Regions from separate parts of the Homo sapiens genome. Here region 1 is linked to region 2. A link means that fine-mapping ties the variant in region 2 to the expression of a gene that starts in the linked region. Tissue or cell type: spinal cord. Region 2 holds a variant in brackets; the other region holds the start of a gene. All regions are shown on one strand. Distances are from middle to middle.

Region 1 (8,103 bases), 240 kb before region 2:
AGCTGGTAGGCGGGCTGCCACTCTGGGCACAGGAGCGGCTGGGCAGTTTCTGTGCCACCGACAGTCCCATGCCCCACTCTGACTTCTGCCCCCAAAACTAGACCTTAGGGCCCCTCCTCTGCCTCAGGCTGGGAGACCCTGAGAACAGGGGTGTCTGCTCCAAGGAGACCCTCCTCTACCCTCCATGTCCCGCTCCCCACCCAGCACAGCCAGGTATAAAGCCAGGAAGGCCTGGGGGTGTCCTCCGAGAAGCTATCCTGGGCCGGGAGCCAGCCGGGTTCTGTGGCTACAACAGGGAAACAGTTAGAGGTGGTCCCAGCGACCAGGGAGCTCAGGTGCCAAGGTGGGGCGCTGAGACCCCAGCAAAGGAGCAAACAGACACACATCACATCACATCAGACATCAGGAGGCCAGACAGGTGCTCTGGGAACACCTATGCCCAGACACAACCTTGCAAGCAAAAGCAGGAGGCCTGCTGGCACGCGGGCAGTGATTCAGCATGAGGGCTCCTGGCAGCGCAGGGGCACCCGGGGTGCCACTCGGCTCCGCCCTTGCCTTCTGTGCCGTGCCCTGGCATAAAGGGAGGGTGGCCGGGTGCCCTGCTGCAGTGCCACCGTCCAGCTGGTGGCACCCAGGCCTGCTTCCTTGCCCATAAAATGGGATGACCACTGCTGTCACTGCAGCCTGGCCTGGCTGTCCAGAGGACAAAGGAAGTCTCAAAAGGGAGCCCAATATGTCCCGACACTGCCCTCTTTCATGAGCTAAGTCTCCTGTCACCCACTGCCTTTTCTGGTCCCTGGGGCAGAGGCTGGGAAGGCCCGCCACACACCCAGGGCCAACTGCTCTCCTTCCCACGAGGAAGTATCAGATCTCTACCCCACCTGCTCCGGGCCAGCGAGGTGCCCAACCCCAGGGGGTTCGCATTCCCTCTGAGGAGGTCCCCCTGGAGAAGTCTGGATGCAGGAGAGAGGGGACTGAGAATGGTGCCTACTAGGCCACAGAGGGTCCAGGGCTCCTGGGAGGATCTGCCGCCCAGGGGCCACCAGAGGGCGCCCGTTCCACGGAGCCCAGGCCCAGCCGACAAAGCAGGAGGGGACACTGGGCTTGGCTGCCCCAGGACTGCTGCGACCCGAGGGAGTCACCCTGTTTCCCTCAGCCCACGTGGCTCCCACACTGTCTTCTGTACCCTGGGTCCCGAAGGTTACTCCCCACTTCTGCAGCCATAGGGGGTGCAGGGAGAGAGGTTCCTGTCGGAGGGGCACCGACTGGAGAGGCAGTAATCCTGCCCAGTGCAGTCCTGGCCTTGCAAGTCTGGAGGAGGGTGGCACCCCGAGCCCTGGCAGCAGGCACTGGCCCATGGCTGGCACCGTGGTTAGACAGCTGCAGGGCGTTCGTACTCCCCACGCGGGGTGGACAGCATCCCCTGCCCCATCAGACACAGAGAAATCAACACAATCTGCCTGTCCTGGGTCCCTAACCCACTGCATTCCCCAACCCAAGAGCAGCACGACCCACACTCTCTGGCCCAGCCCCACATCAACTTCTCCATCTTGTCCTGCCCTCTCTTCTCACCCTTGGGAGATGGCCAAACTCTGCCACTCTGTCTCTCTAACTGGCAACAGTGGCCTGTGGATGCAAGGAAGGTTAGGTTGGCTCCTAAGGATGCAACTGCCCAGAGGACATGGAGGTGCTAAGAAGGGCTGGGGGCTAATGGTTTCCAAAGGAGCAGGGTTCAAGACTCTGGGCTGGGAGGGGCAGCCACTCAGCCACTCTGCTACCCTGGTGCCTGGGGAGGGATTCACCAGGAAGGCCAGGGATGCCTCTTTATGTGTGAGTAGAGGGGCAGAGAACGAACCCAACTGTGCCGAGGGCCTTGTGCTGCCTGGCATCCAGGTGTGCCCCCTACCTGGGACAGACAGAGCCCAGTGGGGTGAGGGGGGCAGCCTGGAAATGACAGGGTTGCCTCTGCAGAGGCACAGGAAGGCCTGTCCTGGGGACTTTGGAGGGGTCCTTGCAAGAACCTCAGGCTGGTGGGGAGGGCATCGGGAGATCCGCCAAGGGACTGTCTGCGGGTTCTGTTCCTTCTGTGGGGGGCGGTCAGGGGGCCCTTACAAGAACCTCAGGCTGGGGGCATCGGGAGATCCACCAAGGGCAAGGGGCTGTCTGTGGGTTCTGTTCCTCCTGGAGGGGCAGGGGTCCAGAGCCCGACTGCCTCCTCCCACCACTCCGCCCCCCGCGGCAAGGCATGGCCACAGACCCCCCTCACCCAGATGCACGGATCCTTCTTGCTCAGAATCCCCAGGACCATGGGCATTTCTGCGCTGAGTCCCCATCTGAGTAGCCCTCCACCCGCACTCCCACTCCCCTGGTTTCAGAGGAGCCCCCCAGAGCAGGAACCTAGTCTGTTTTGTTCTTGCCCACTGGGTCCCTGGCACGCGGTACAGACCGAGGTTGGTTCCCACACGTGGAAAGGTGAAGCTTGGGTTCCAAGAGTTCCTTAGCACACGGAGCCCACCGTTCCACCCACCCGTACACTTCTGTCCCCAAAGCTCCTCCGGGACCACAGGGAGGGAAGAGGCAGAGCCGCAGGCGGCTGCAGGGCTTAGGGGGCGCCAAGAGGGCCGCTGTTCTTACAAAGAAATGACACGGCCCCTGGGCGGGATCCAACGCGCCGACCACCTGCAGCTGGACTCGCGGCACGAGGCTGCCCAAGCGCCAGGCGGGGGCCGGCGCGTACAAGTTCTTCGACAGGAATCTCTACGAGGCGGCGGCGTTCCGCCCGCGGATAAGTGCCCAGCTCCCTCCCCACCCCTCCGCACTACCCCCCGAGGGGGTCAGCTTATAAAACCCACCTAGGCTGCCTTTGCTGGAGACCCTACGAGAATCCCCGGGCAGGACCGGAGACGCCTCCCAGAGAGGTCTGTACAGAGCAGAAGGGGTCCGCGGCCACCGTCAGCGGCGCCCCGAAAGCCCGGCCACGCCGAGCCCCACAGCGCCCCGACAGCCGGCCCCGGGGCTGGGACTCCCGGCCTGCAGGCGCGCTGGGCCGAGCGGCGGGCAGAAGACGCCCAGCTCCAGCCGTGGCCCGGGAGGAGCGCCCCGAGCCCGCAGCCCGGCGAGATCAGCTCCGCAGGGAAGAAGCCGGCGTGCGGGGGGCGGGGAGGGGCGGAGGACGACCGAGCGGGGCGGAGGAGACCCTGGCGAGGGAGTGCGGCGCGGGGCTTGGAGGCGAGGGCCGTGGGGTTGCAGAGGAGCCGCAGCGCAGGGAGCCATTCGGGGCCCGGGCGGCGGGGCGCAGGCGGCAGGATCCCGCGCCGGGGGCGAGTAGCCGCGTCGGGAAGACCAGGGTCCGGAGCCCAAAGCCCGGCCAGGCCCGGGTTCCCGGCGCCGCGCCCTCACTCACCCGAGATCTCCGCCTGGGGCACGTCGCTCAGGCTGAAGCCCTTGGCTCCGTAGATCTGGCGGACCTCGCCGCAGCTCCGGCTCTTGCTGGCCGGGTCCCCGCGGGCGCAGGCGACCAGCGCTGCGGCCGCACATAGCAGCCACCAGCCTCGGGCCCGGAGCTCCATGGCGGGGCCGGCGGCGCCCCCGGCCACCCGCCCGCGCCTCTCTCGGATCCTGGCCGGGTCCTGCGCAGTTCCCGCCCGCGAAGGGCAGAGCCAAGGTCCCGGCGCGCGCGGCTCGCGGTCCAGAGGCGGCGGCGGCCGAGGAGGCGGAGACAACAAAAGCCGGCGGCGGCGGCGGCGCGGGGCGCGCGGGGTGCGAGGTCCGAACGCTCGCTCGGGCAGCCCAGAGCGCGGCGGGCTAGCGCAGTCCCGGCTCGGCGCCTCCCCCGCCGCCGGCCCGGCCCCTAGGCGGCCGCGGGAGAGGAGAGGGGCGGGGCAGGGTGGGAGCGCAGGGGTGGGGGAGGGACTGGGAGCACCGGGCGGGGCGGGGCGGGGCGCGGCGCGGGGGCGCGGGCCGGGGCGCACTGGGCGCTCCTCTGGCTCTTAGGGACCCAGAGGGCCCGCCTGGCCGCGCGACTCTATCGATCCCCGGCGGGAGGCGGCGGAGCCGGGCAGCGCGGGGCCGCGGCCGGGGTCCCCGAGGGCGGCCCCCCACGCCCAGCGCCCAGGGCGGTGGCACCACCTGTGGGGGCGGGGACGGGGGCGGAGGGTGCGCGAGGCAGGGCTTCCCCCGCCGGACGTGACATCACGCCTCCCGCGCCCCAATCAGGGGCCTCCCCGCCCCCAGCCGAAATCGGCATCCCGCTCCCCGCTCCCTCCCGCGCGCTCCGGCTTCCTGCACCCTGGCAGCGCGCCCCGAGAACGCTCTCCCGGCGCCTCCGTACCCTCCGCCCGCCGGCCGCGCCTCGAGCCGCCGCCCCTCTCCCCGCCTGCACCCCGCAGCGGCTCCCTCCCCGCGCCCTTCCAGCCGTCTCGCGCTGGGCTCCGGCTCGCACCGGGGGCTTTTGTGGTGTGGGGGCTGCACGCAGGAAACTCGCCAAGAAACTCGACCTCACCTCTCCCAGTCCCAGGGAGCGGCAACAGATGGCTTAATTGTTGGACCTTGACAGCTGTTTTGGGGGGGTGACCCTCCACGTTCTTTGGATGCTGGAGAAACCAAAGTGATGGGGCAGGGCCGGTCTACTGGTTTGGGCTGCTGGGTGGGGCCAGATGACCTCTGGAGAAGGGATAGGGTTGGAACCCGGCGACTAGTTAGGCCACTGGGGGAGGAGGGTGGAGTGAGCCGGAGCAGATGCCTCTTTGAAGAAGGCGGGAGGGCTGCCTGCACCTTGTATGGTAGGAGGGCGCGTGGCTTTAGCTGCACATGGGGAGTTGGGCTGGATGGGGTCTGTAGGGAGGGGGCGAGGACTGCGATGTTGGTGTCTGGAGGGCTTCACTCCTTCCTTGGCTCCCAGACCCCCCACCCCGGCCCCCTGTTCTCCACATGGTAAGGCCTGGCGGTGAAGCCAGGTGCCTGAGCTGCAGAATTGGGGGCAGGCATAGAGGTCAGTATCCTTGGCAGAGAACCTCAAGATGACCCCCATGTACAGCAAGGGTGTCCTGATTTCAGGGCCTGTGGCATCACCTGGAAGCTGCAGCGGGGTCCGTGGTGGGGGTGGTGGCAACATTCCCTACCCCTTCTGTGCCTGGGGCTCTCAGCCGCTGTGTGGGGCTGGAGCAGGAAGGTGGGGTGCCCTCCCCCTGGGCTCTTGGGGTTTCCTGCCCTGCCTCCCAGAGAAGGTTGCTCCTTCACCCAGAGACACTGAGTCATTGCTGGAGAGGGAGGCTTTGGGGACCCAATCCAAGTGTGCATTTCCCTGCCCTCCCCCACATACCCTCTGCTGCGTCACATTTTGTGACTCACAGACCCCTGTTCAGTACATGCTCCAGGCTTGCTCCTTCTTGCCTGGGCCTGGCGTGGCTGCCTGCACACCTTATCCAGCACGGTCAGGAGCCTGGGCCCACGATCCCGCTCTCTCTCTGTGTGGTCTCACGCACTGCGGGATCAGGCAGGGCTGCCTGGGCCTAGGAAGCTGGACTTGAGGTTAACCCGGCCTGAGGCTCTATAGTTACCCCGTCACTGTCTACGCCTCCTCTTAATCTGACCAGGTTGGGTTATTCCTCCAGGCAAGTCCTTCCTCCAGCCTAGTTCTGGGCCTCTGGATGGCAGTGTGGACAGCAGGGCTTAGAACGCGATGGTGGCAGCCTCTGCCTGGCCCTGGTGACCCCTGGGTGGCTTCATCTCCTAAGGAAGTCCTTACCACCATCGCAGGTCCTGGAATCATTCCCATTCCGCAGGCCAGGAGACCTGTAGCCAGGGCCTTCCCTGGAGAGGATGCACATGCCGCCGGGGGCATTGGAAGCAAAAGCCGTGTTTGCACCTGGGAGGAGCCGCAGGATCCTGAGCAGCTGCAGCTACCCCTGCTTCCCTCCTGGCAATGCTGCACACGCCCGCTGTCACCAGGGCAGGAGCCGCCAGGCTGCCCGTGCTAGTCGGGTGCAGGGTCCAGACTGGGACTCTGGGAGGATGGGCAAGGCTGATCAGCCCCCTCTTCCACCGCTGTCCCTGGGGCCGCTCCACACAGGACACGTGGATGGGTTTGAGGACATAGTTGATGCCTCGAATCCCAGCCACCACAGTGACCCTTGTGGCTCTGACCAAGACCACCCCCTCCTGCTTTGGTGTCTTTGCCTGGCTAGACAGTGGGGGCACACGTATGCGACACAAAGAAGGAATGAATGAGCAAGTGAGGAAACACCTGAGAGGAAAAGTTTGTCCCTGAGAGTGGGCGTGTGGCGCAGCCTGGACCTGCTCTTCCACAGGTGCAGTGAGGGCAGAGGACACTTAGCATTGTCTGACGGGCTGAGGCAGGCAGTGCCTGTTGGGCCAGGGCGTGGGGGCCTCCCTTCCATGCCCCCATCTTCTGTGGAGGACCCCAGGTCCTGGAGGGCGTGTACTGCTGGCTTAGGGCCCACTCCTGCCTCTGCCTAGGGAGGGTGGGGGTCTGCGGGATGCTGAGCCTGGTCTCTGCTCAGAAGACACAGGGAGCGCCGGGGGGCCCGCAGCTCCCAGCCGTTCGGACGGCAGGTCTGCCCAGAAATTATCCTACTTTTGCTCCGTGGAACCCTCGTGAGTGTGCACGCCCTTGCCCGCTGCCATGGACGGACAGCTTCCCTTTCTGTTTGGTTTCAGGGATTGTCTTTCGGAGACTCCAAAAGTAAGTTTCCAAACAGACTGAGCGATTGTTGTCGCTGCCATCCATGGCTGCCTTCTTGTGAATGTCACTGCCTGTAGCATCCCTACCTACGAGAGCCCTGTCCTACTGGCCGTGGGAGGCAGGAGTGCGCGCGTGTGCCTGCAGACAGCAGGGGTTCAAGGGCGTGGACTAGGGCTGGCTGGGATGTGGCATCTGATCTGTTAGAGCACCCAGGAGGTGTTTTGGTGCCCTGGGGCATAGTGGAGGATGTAGGGTCCCCACACCTCTGTGGGGGTCTGGGGACCCCTTGGGCAGCAGCCTGAAGGAGGAAGTGGATACCCCAGCATGTGGCTGATGAAGGGAACATGGTCCCCAGGAGTGGCTGGCAGCCCTGGGCAGAGCAGGGTGGGCAGGACAGCCTGCCTGCAGAGCTGGAGATCTTTCTGCAAATGGTAATCAGGGTGCCTGCCAGAAAGAAGCGGGGCTCTGGGCAGCTCTACAGGGCTTAGCGATGGGGAGGGGATCTGCCCCAGGGCCTGCTCTGGCCCATGGACTCCACCTCCAGCTCACCCCGTGCTTCCTGCCCTGCCTTTTGGTGGTGACACTTGGGGAACATTCATCCGGTCTCTCATTCTGGTGCTGGCTCAGGGAGCCGCTGTCATCTCATGAAGGAGCTCGGCTCCAGACGACCCTGCAGGATTGTACTCGTGTGGGGTCTGTGAGGTGGGGTGCTGGTCCCTGCTCTGCCTGGACACTCAGTGGTACCCTGGAAGGTCTTCCAGCCCTGAGCCAGGACCCTAATCTACAGGAGTTCGGCTTTGAGTCTGAACCCTAGGGCTGCCCTGGCTTCCCCAACTTAGGGGCTGCCACTGGGCAGTGAGGGTGGGTGGACAAGGGCGCCAGCTGGGCAGAGTTTGCAGGACTGAGAAAACCTGGCACCATTATTCTCAAAGGAGGTCATACCTGCACCTCCCTCCACCTCTCTCCAAGCCCCTGCCGTGGGGCAGTCAACTTGAAGGTGAAGCTGTTTGGAGCCTGCTCTGCTCTGCTGGGTCCTTTTGATCAGCAGAAGTCTGGGCTGGCCTCCCTTATCCAGGTCAGAGGAGAGCAAGCCTTTTCAGTGAGGCTGGGTCACCCGTGTGGTAGGTGGGGTCAGAAGAATGCACCTGTGGCCCCTCCAAGAGCTGGCACCTGTTTCTCTAGTCTGAGGACCCTGGTAGCAAGAGATGACCCCAAACACTCCACTCTGGGCTGAGCTGGGTTTGGCCTTCCCTGTGGCTGTTTTCCTGCCCCTCCCCACCCTGACTCTTGGCCTGGTCTCCTTGAGGAGAGGGAGCAGATGGGGGCACTCCGGCACTGTCTGCTATGTTAGGACAAAGCACCCCACACACCTGGAGCTCAGAGACCCACGTGCACGCTTT
Region 2 (8,103 bases):
GTAGTGATGGGCAGTGATGGATGGTGATGGACAGTAATGGTCGGTGATGGACAGTGATGAGTAGTGATGGGTGGTGATGGACAGTGATGGACAGTGATGAGTAGTGATGGGCGGTGATGGACAGTGATGGATGGTGATGAGCACAGACAGGGCATGACTCGCTCAGCCCCTTTCCTTGTCGCAGCACCATGAAGCCTGTGAAGACTGTGAGCCTGGCCAGGAGCTGCTGTGTATCCACCTCCACTATCAGGCATTGCCACTACTCTGGTGGACCTAGCTTGACCTGGGGCTGCAGGGCATGGAACAGAGAGAGGCCTGGAGTAAGGGTCCAGGCAAACTCAGAAGACAGGCCAGTTCCCAAGCAGCTGGCAGGGAGGGACAGAGGAGAAGCAAGACCCAAGGACACACCCAGCACAAGGACAGGATGGGGTGTGGGCCTGTGGGCAGCAGGAGTCTGGTCTCGGGCACTCTTGGCGTCTGGCAAGTCACTGCCCCAGCTGGGAACAGAGGCAGGCCGGGGCAGGGGAGGTCCTAGAGCTGCCAGCTGGTTCATATTTCATCCTCCCTGAAGCCCCATCCTCAGTCCCAGCTGGTCCAGCAGAGGACCAGACAGCTGAAGACGTCAGCAAACTCAAAGCCAGCATGAGTGGAGGGGGCTTCCGCACAGGCTCCTCCAACCTTGTGGGCTCTCCCTTGTGGGATCCTTGTGGGATCTCCCTTGTGGGATTCTCACCCCTAGCAGTGGCTGATCACTGTTGCAAGGTATTCTGTGCACCTGAACTGCCCAGTGTGAGCCAGATGCCCCGCCCTGGAGCAGAGCCACAGCCAGCCCCTGACCCCTGCACTTCAGCCTGGAGACAGAGACAGGCAGGTGGGCTGCAGGGGTTCACAGTAGGGTGTGGAAAGCTCCAGAACAGATTCAGGCATTATCCTCGCACCGTTCTGGAGGCCACAAGGCCGAAATCAAGGTGCCAGCAGGGCTGTGCTCCCTCCAGAGGCTCTAAAGGAGGAGCTTTCCTGCCTCTTCCAGGTTCTGGTGGCCCCTGGCTTCCTTGGCTTGTGGCCGTGTTGCTCTAAACTCTGCTTCCGTCTTCACATGGCCTCTCCTCTGTGTGTCTGTGTCTCTCCCCATCTTATAAGGACACTCGCCATTGGATCTAGGGACCACCCTAAATCTAAGATGATTTCGTCTCAAGATTCTTCACTAATTACATCTACAAAGACCCTATTCCAAATACAGTTGCACCGTGGGGTTCTGGGTAAATGCTGCTATTCAACCCACTTCTGGTCATGCAGAAGAGCGCAGGCAGGAGGAATGGCCTGGCTAGGGGCAGGGCTCAGGCCCTGTGCTCTCTGCTTATGCCTGAAGAAGCAGCACGGGAAGAGGGAGCTTTTCTCTTCCATCAGAGACAATTTTAACAAAGAAAATCAGAGGGGATGTGAATAACTTCCGAAATTTATCAAATTAATAGGCACATGGAAGCCCAGCTTGCAAAAAAATTCATTTCAAATCCTCTAAATCTTAACTGTCACATTCACCGAGTTTCCAGGGGCTAAATGCTGAATGCTAATACCATTTCCAGTATTCGCAATCCAATCTTAATTAAATCTGCACCACACTGAATTACTTTAACTATGATTTTCCAGTGGAAGGTATTGTGAGAAGTGTATTCTCTCTTATTTTAATCAGATTTCATAATTTTCAAGTGGACATGCTGGTGGAAAGACTGTTTGTTTAGAGATTGAGTTGGGAGAAGTCTCTCCAAATCTCATCAGTGGCTTTCACAAAGAAAGAGGAGGGTGTCTTTAATAAGACCGACTCCTTCTACGGGTTAAAAAGTCAACAGTACGCCAAAGTATGGGAGAAGATATTTGCAATGCACATAATGACAAAAGATATTCAAAGACAAATAATAAACGTAAAGCCAGACAACCCAATGGAAAAATGGGGAAACGCTTGAACAGACACTTCACGGAGAACAAGTCCAGTTGCAGACGGATCATGGGGCATGTGCCTCCTCGATGGCAATCACAGAATTGCACCCTGCAGTAGCTACTGCCATGCTCAGCTCAGATTCACTTAACTGGCTGCCATTTCCACCCCTGGCAGCAGCTTGTACTGGCCAACAACTCACAGCTGACACTCCTGGAAATAATTGCCCTTGGCCCAGCAGAAGCCACTTCATCAAGGGGCTGTGTCCCGCACCCAGGGCAGACCAAGGACAAGGACTAGCTGGCATGAGGATACTACAGGGCAGCCCCTGCCTCACAGCAGGGCCGAGTCCCGGGTGCATTCACACTCCAGAGCTCCCATGGAGTCGGGCTTGAGGTGAACTCCAGCTGAGGTCAGCTTCTGCCCCTTATTGCTTGATTCACCTGCTGTCTCCTGAGAGTCAGTTGAATAAGAACCCTCGTCTCAGGCTCTGCTTACGGGGACACCAGTCCCAGGACACCAGTTAGGATGATTACTGTTAAAAACAACAACAGCAAACCCTCAAAAGCAAACAAGCCCAGAAGGTAATAAGCATTGGCAAGAATGTGGAGACATTGGAACCCAGTGCACTGCGGGTGAGAATGTAAAATGGTGCAGCAACTGTAAAAAAAGGTCCTCAAACAATTAATCAGAGAACTACCATACCACCATCAATCCCGCTTCTGGACATATACTCAAAAATATGAAACAGGAGCTCAAACAGATATTGGTACACCCATGTTCACAGCAGCGCTACTCACAGCACCTAAAAGACGTAAGTAACCCGCTTGCCCACTGAGGAATGAGTGGATAGGTGTGGAGCACACATACCATGCTGTCTCAGTCCGTTTTGTGTTGCCATCACAGAATACCCGAGGCTGGGTAATTTACAAAGAACAGAGGTTTATTTGGCTCACGATTCTGGTGGCTCCAAAGCCTAAAATTAGGCAGATGTATCTGGTAGGGGGCTCATGCTGCTTCCTCTCATGATGGAAAGTGGAAGGGGGGATGAGCAAAGAGATCACCTGGTGAGAGAGGAAGCAAGAGAGAGCTGAGGAAGCCAGACTCGCTTTGACCACAGCCCGCTCTCTGGTAACTAATCCAGTTTTGGAAGGGCAAGCACTCACACACTCCGGAGAGAGAGCGTTAATCTGTTTATGCGAGATCTGACCCCATGACCCAAACACCCCCCACTACGCTCCACCTTCCAACACTGCCCCACAATGGATGCAATTTCAACACTACGCTCCACCTCCCAACACTGCCCCACAATGGATGCAATTTCAACACTACGCTCCACCTCCCAACACTGCCCCACAATGGATGCAATTTCAACACTACGCTCCAACTCCCAACACTGCCCCACAGCGGATTAAATTTCAACATGACTTTTGGTGGAAACAAGCCACATCCAAGCCATAGCAAATGGGCTATTCCTCAGCCTACAAAAGGATGGAAATTCTGATACATCATACAACATGGATGAACCTTGAAGAATTATGCTAAATGAAATAAGCCATTTATAAAAGGACATTTACCGCTTCATGATTTTGTTGATGATATTCCTGGAGTAGTTACATTCATGGAGAAAGAAAGTGGAATGGTGAGTGCCAGGGGCTGTGTTTAGTGGCTGCAGAGTTTCAGCTTTTTAAGATGAAGAGTTCTGGAGATGGAGGGTGATGGCTGCACAGCACTGTGAATGTACTTAGTGCCACCAAAGTGTACACTTAAAAAGGTTAAAATGAGGCTGGGCGCGGTGGCTCATGCCTGTAATCCCAGCACTTTGGGAGGCTGAGGCAGGCGGATCACGAGGTCAGGAGATCAAGACCTTCCTGGCTAACAGGGTGAAACCCCATCTCTACTAAAAATAAAAAATTAGCCAGGTGTGGTGGCGCGCAACTCTAATCCCAGCTACTCGGGAGAGAATCACTTGAACCAGGGAGTCAGGTTGCAGAGAGCCAAGATCGCCCCACTGCACTCCAGCCTGGTGACAGAGCGAGACTCCTCAAAAAAAAAGGTTAAAATGGTAAATTTTATTTTAGGTGCATTTTACCTCAATGGAAAATGTTTCAAATGAAAACAAAATAAAAATTCACCTCCAACCAATCTACTGAATGGCTAGAATTTGAAAGGCCAACACATGAGCTGCTGCAAGGCTGGAGAAAGGAAGTTTCAGACACCACAGGTGAGGGCACATCGCTTTGGCTTTATCTAGAAAAATTGAGGTTACACGGGCTCTATGGCCCCGCAATGGCACTTCTGACCATCCACCTACAGAGACACATGCCCTGAGCCCGGGGTACATTTACAGGAATGCTCGCGGCTGTACTGTGTGCAATTATCAAAAATGGGAATCTCAAACAGAGTGAATATCTAGTTCTGGTAAAGTGGGCGCATATTCAATTGAATATTATACTGCAGTAAAAACAAACAGCTATAATCACATGCTTCCACATAGATACGTCTCCCAAACGTATCTATGAGAGTAAGAAGAAAGACACAAAAGATTAAATAAGGAATGAAGCTTTTTTTTTTTTTTCTTGAGACAGAGTCTTGCTCTGTCACCCAGGCTGGAGTGCTGTGGCGAAATCTTGGCTTATTGCAACCTCCGCCTCCCGGGTTCAAACAATTCTCATGCCTCAGCCTCCCGAGTAGCTGGGATTACAAGCGTGCACCACTACGCCCAGCTAATTTTTGTATATTTAGTAGAGA[C/T]GGGGTTTCACCATGTTGGTCAGGCTGTTCTCAAACTCCTGACCTAGTGATCCACCCACCTTGGCCTCCCAAAGTGCTGGGATTATAGGCATGAGGAAATGAAGCTTTTCATATAAAATTTCTGCCACATTGTTTCAGGATGCAAATGGAAGTGGAAAAACTTTAGAAAAACAATGATGTGGTTGTTCCAAAAGTTAAAGGACAGCTGCCACCAGGCACAGGGTGCCGCTGTGAATTGAGAGAGGCAGGCAGTGGAGAGCGAGGGCATCTGGGGAGATGGACTGGCGGGTTCTGAGATTCTAGCCATGTTCGAGGACTTGACCTGGGAGGTAGGCTCGTGGGTGTTTATTTATAATGGTTGTATACAATTATGTAATATAAACTTCTCAGTGTCAACAACAATAAACAAAGATCAATTTTATTCCAAACCATTTCCTTTGTTTACAGCTTATCTTTTACAAATAGTTTCCATTAAAGAAATCCATGCAGATCCTTCTGTAGTCGGCTGTGTCATATGAGAACAAATATTCAGACGACTGCGCCAATCTGATGCTAGGTCGCCACACGGTGCAAAGCGCACACACCCGTGTGGTCCATAAAGGATGCACAGGCGGTGCCTGAAGGTCATTCGCAGTCTTGAGTGTTGGCCACTCCAATGTCTTGGCTTTGAGGAACAGGATCATGACTGTATTCGTCAGTTCTTGCACTGCTATAAATAAATACCTCCGACTGGGTAACTTATAAAGAAAAGAGGTTTAACTGGATCAGAGTTCTGCAGGCTGTAAGGAAGCATGACAGCTTCTGGGGAGGCCTCAGGAAACTTTCAGTCGTGGTAGAGGGCAAAGAGAAAGCAGGCACGCCTTACATGGCCAGAGCGGGAGGTGGTGGGGGGGTGGATGCCACACACATTGAAATGACCAGATCTCATGAGAACTCATTCACTGTCATGAGAACAGCACCCAAGTGTATGGTGTTCAACCATTAGAAACCACCCCTCTAATCCAATCACTTCCCACCACGCCGCATCTCCAACACTGAGGATTACAACTGAACACAAGATGTGGGTGCACGCAGAGCCAAACTGTATCAGCTACTGGATCCTCACCATTGTCCATTTAAAAAATAGTCTATTTCCAGTAAAACAGGTGTAAAACAAAACTAGAATTTGCAAGGAAATAAAATAACATCCTTCTCCAAACTTGTTTCTAGGAGAAAGCAGAAGACATTGGCAGCTGGTGGAGAGACACGTGTAGACATGTAGGGGCTTCGGGGTCTCTCCTCAAAGGACAACAGGTGCAGAGTGGCCGGCACTTGGGAACTTTGCCTTCACATTGACCTGGGCAAAGGGCTGCCCACAGCCCTATTCTGATGCCTGCTGTGCATGACAGAGACGGAGAAAGAAGGAAGAAGGGGAAGGGGAGAAAGGGGAGAAAGTGTTTTCTGTTCACAGGTGGGAAAAGAGGAGACAGGAGCTTCGATGAGGCTGCTGTCATGAGTGATACATACAGGGATGACCAGAGCTGGAATAAACTGAGGTGAGAATGACAAATATCAGAGGTGGCTGTGCGCAGGTACCTCTGGAAAGGAGAAAGGGCTTGGTGTGGAGCAGGCCTATCAGCTATGGCTTCAGACTTCGGGGAGGGGAGGTCCTTGCAGGTCTATTTCCTCCTCTGGGCCTCTCTCCCGCATCCTCTTCTCTCTCCTCTCTTTGCCGAATTCCACTCCAGCTCTCAGCTTGGACACCACCCCTCAGGGAGCCTTTCCTGCCTTCCCCACGGCACCCACGCTTGACACGCTGATGTCTGTCTTCCCTGAAGCTGCTGTCTTGTCCCTGCTGCTCTGCAGGCCGCTAGCAACCAGCATGGACCGGAACCACTGCTCCAGCGCCAAGGCGGTGCTCAGCAAGTGTCGGCTGAATGAGGGGATGAGGAATGGTGTGCTTGAATGACCGTGGGTCCTGGGTGAGCCGCCAGGGATGCGACAAACCTAGAACCCCTGGGTGACCCCTCCTATGTTGGGTGGGCTGGTCCCAGAGCCACCCAGATGCCCCAAGACCCCCGCCGCCGACTTTGGGGGATGGGAGGGAATGGGAAGGGTGGGGAATGGGGGCCGTGGACTCCACATCATATCCACGGGTAAAATGTTCTCAAGGAACAGTTTGTTTTCATTTCAAAGGCTCATCCAATATATCGGGTCAAGGTTTATCAGAAAATTTTCTGAGATCTTACTGTTTTCCCTATATCGGAAAGAATTTCCAAAAAATAGTGTTTTAAAGATGTGTAATTGTCACTGGAGTGAGGTGGAGCCACGTCCAGGAGGGCGGGTGGCAGTTTCCGGGCAGAAGTCAGGGCCTCAGCCTGGATGCATTCTTGCCTCCCCCAAGATGCTGAAATGCTTGCCCATTCCAGCCTCCGAGGAAAGCAGGAGACCCACAGGAAGGGTGGCTCCCTGCCTGCCTTCCACCACCTCCCTGCTATAAACAAAAAGGTCTCAATCAATTTAGGAAGTCTATTTTGCCAAGGTTAGGGACGCGCCTGTGACACAGCCTCAGGAGGTCCTGACGACATGCACCCAAGGTGATGGGGCACAGCTTGGTTTGATACATTTTAGGGAGATGTGAGACCTCAATCAATGTATGTAAGATGAACATTGGTTTGGTCTGGAAAGGCGGGGACAACTCGAAACAGGGAGGAGGCTTCCAGGTCATAGGAAGATAAAGAGACAAACGGTTGCATTCTTTTGAATTTCTGATCAGCCTTTCTAAAGGGAGCAATCAGATACGCATTCGTCTCAGTGAGCAGAAGGGTGACTTTTGAGTTCTGTCTGTCCTTTGTCTGCAAGGAACTTCCTTGTGGACAAATTGTGAGGGAGGTGTGTAGCTTTTTTATCTTAGTAGGTATCTCTTTTAGGAATAGAATGGGAGGCAGGTTTGCCCTAACCAGTTCCCATCTTGACCTTTCCCTTTGGCTTAGTGACTTGGGGAGTCCCAAGATTTATTTTCCTTTCACACTGGGCTGCCCTGTCTTACTCAGAACCAGCCTGCCTCCACCCCCAACCCAGCACACCTGTGTCCTCTCCTCTTCTGGCCAGAGGGTATGGTGGGAATGTGAACCCTGGCCCAGGTCAGGCCCAACCAGGCCCTGGTGGCCTCTGCAGGGACAGGCTCCCTGTACAGGGAACTGGGGAATGCTGGCCCGGCAGACAAGCCCATCTGTACTGTGCACTTTTATGGGGCGTTGAGGGAGCTAGCTCTGAGTGAAGCTCTCCCAGGCCCCAGCCATCCCTACCACCTGTCCCACCACACCCGAGCTGCCCACATTCCCAAGCCCTGAGCCTCCACCCTGGACTTGGCCTTGACTGGTGAATAAATCGCAGGCTGTGCAGTCTGCCTGACCACCATACCCTGAGATGGAGGAGTT

Which allele goes with the higher level. Positions count from the first base shown, and alleles are read on the strand shown. Sizes are in standard deviations (SD) of each study's normalised expression.
In carriers of allele T in region 2, the expression in spinal cord of the gene that starts at base 3,825 in region 1 tends to be lower than with C alone (small effect, 0.36 SD a copy in GTEx).

What was found. PIP is the estimated chance that this variant, and not a neighbour inherited with it, causes the effect.
Region 1: GPC1 starts here. The variant in region 2 is fine-mapped to the expression of GPC1 in spinal cord (GTEx, PIP 0.97).

Annotation. Positions count from the first base shown.
Region 1 is chr2:240,431,385-240,439,487 of GRCh38, reverse strand. GPC1 (glypican 1) reads right to left here and starts at 3,825. Exons shown (of 9, transcript NM_002081.3): 1 at 3,404-3,825. The coding sequence starts at 3,569. RefSeq lists enhancers at 1,323-1,824, 1,876-2,452, 4,186-4,762, 5,162-5,456 and silencers at 3,577-3,636, 3,697-4,356.
Region 2 is chr2:240,189,696-240,197,798 of GRCh38, reverse strand. No RefSeq gene overlaps it. Among named protein-coding and RNA genes, the nearest start is that of OTOS, 53 kb to the right of the region's middle. The variant C/T (reference allele first, on the strand shown) is at 4,685.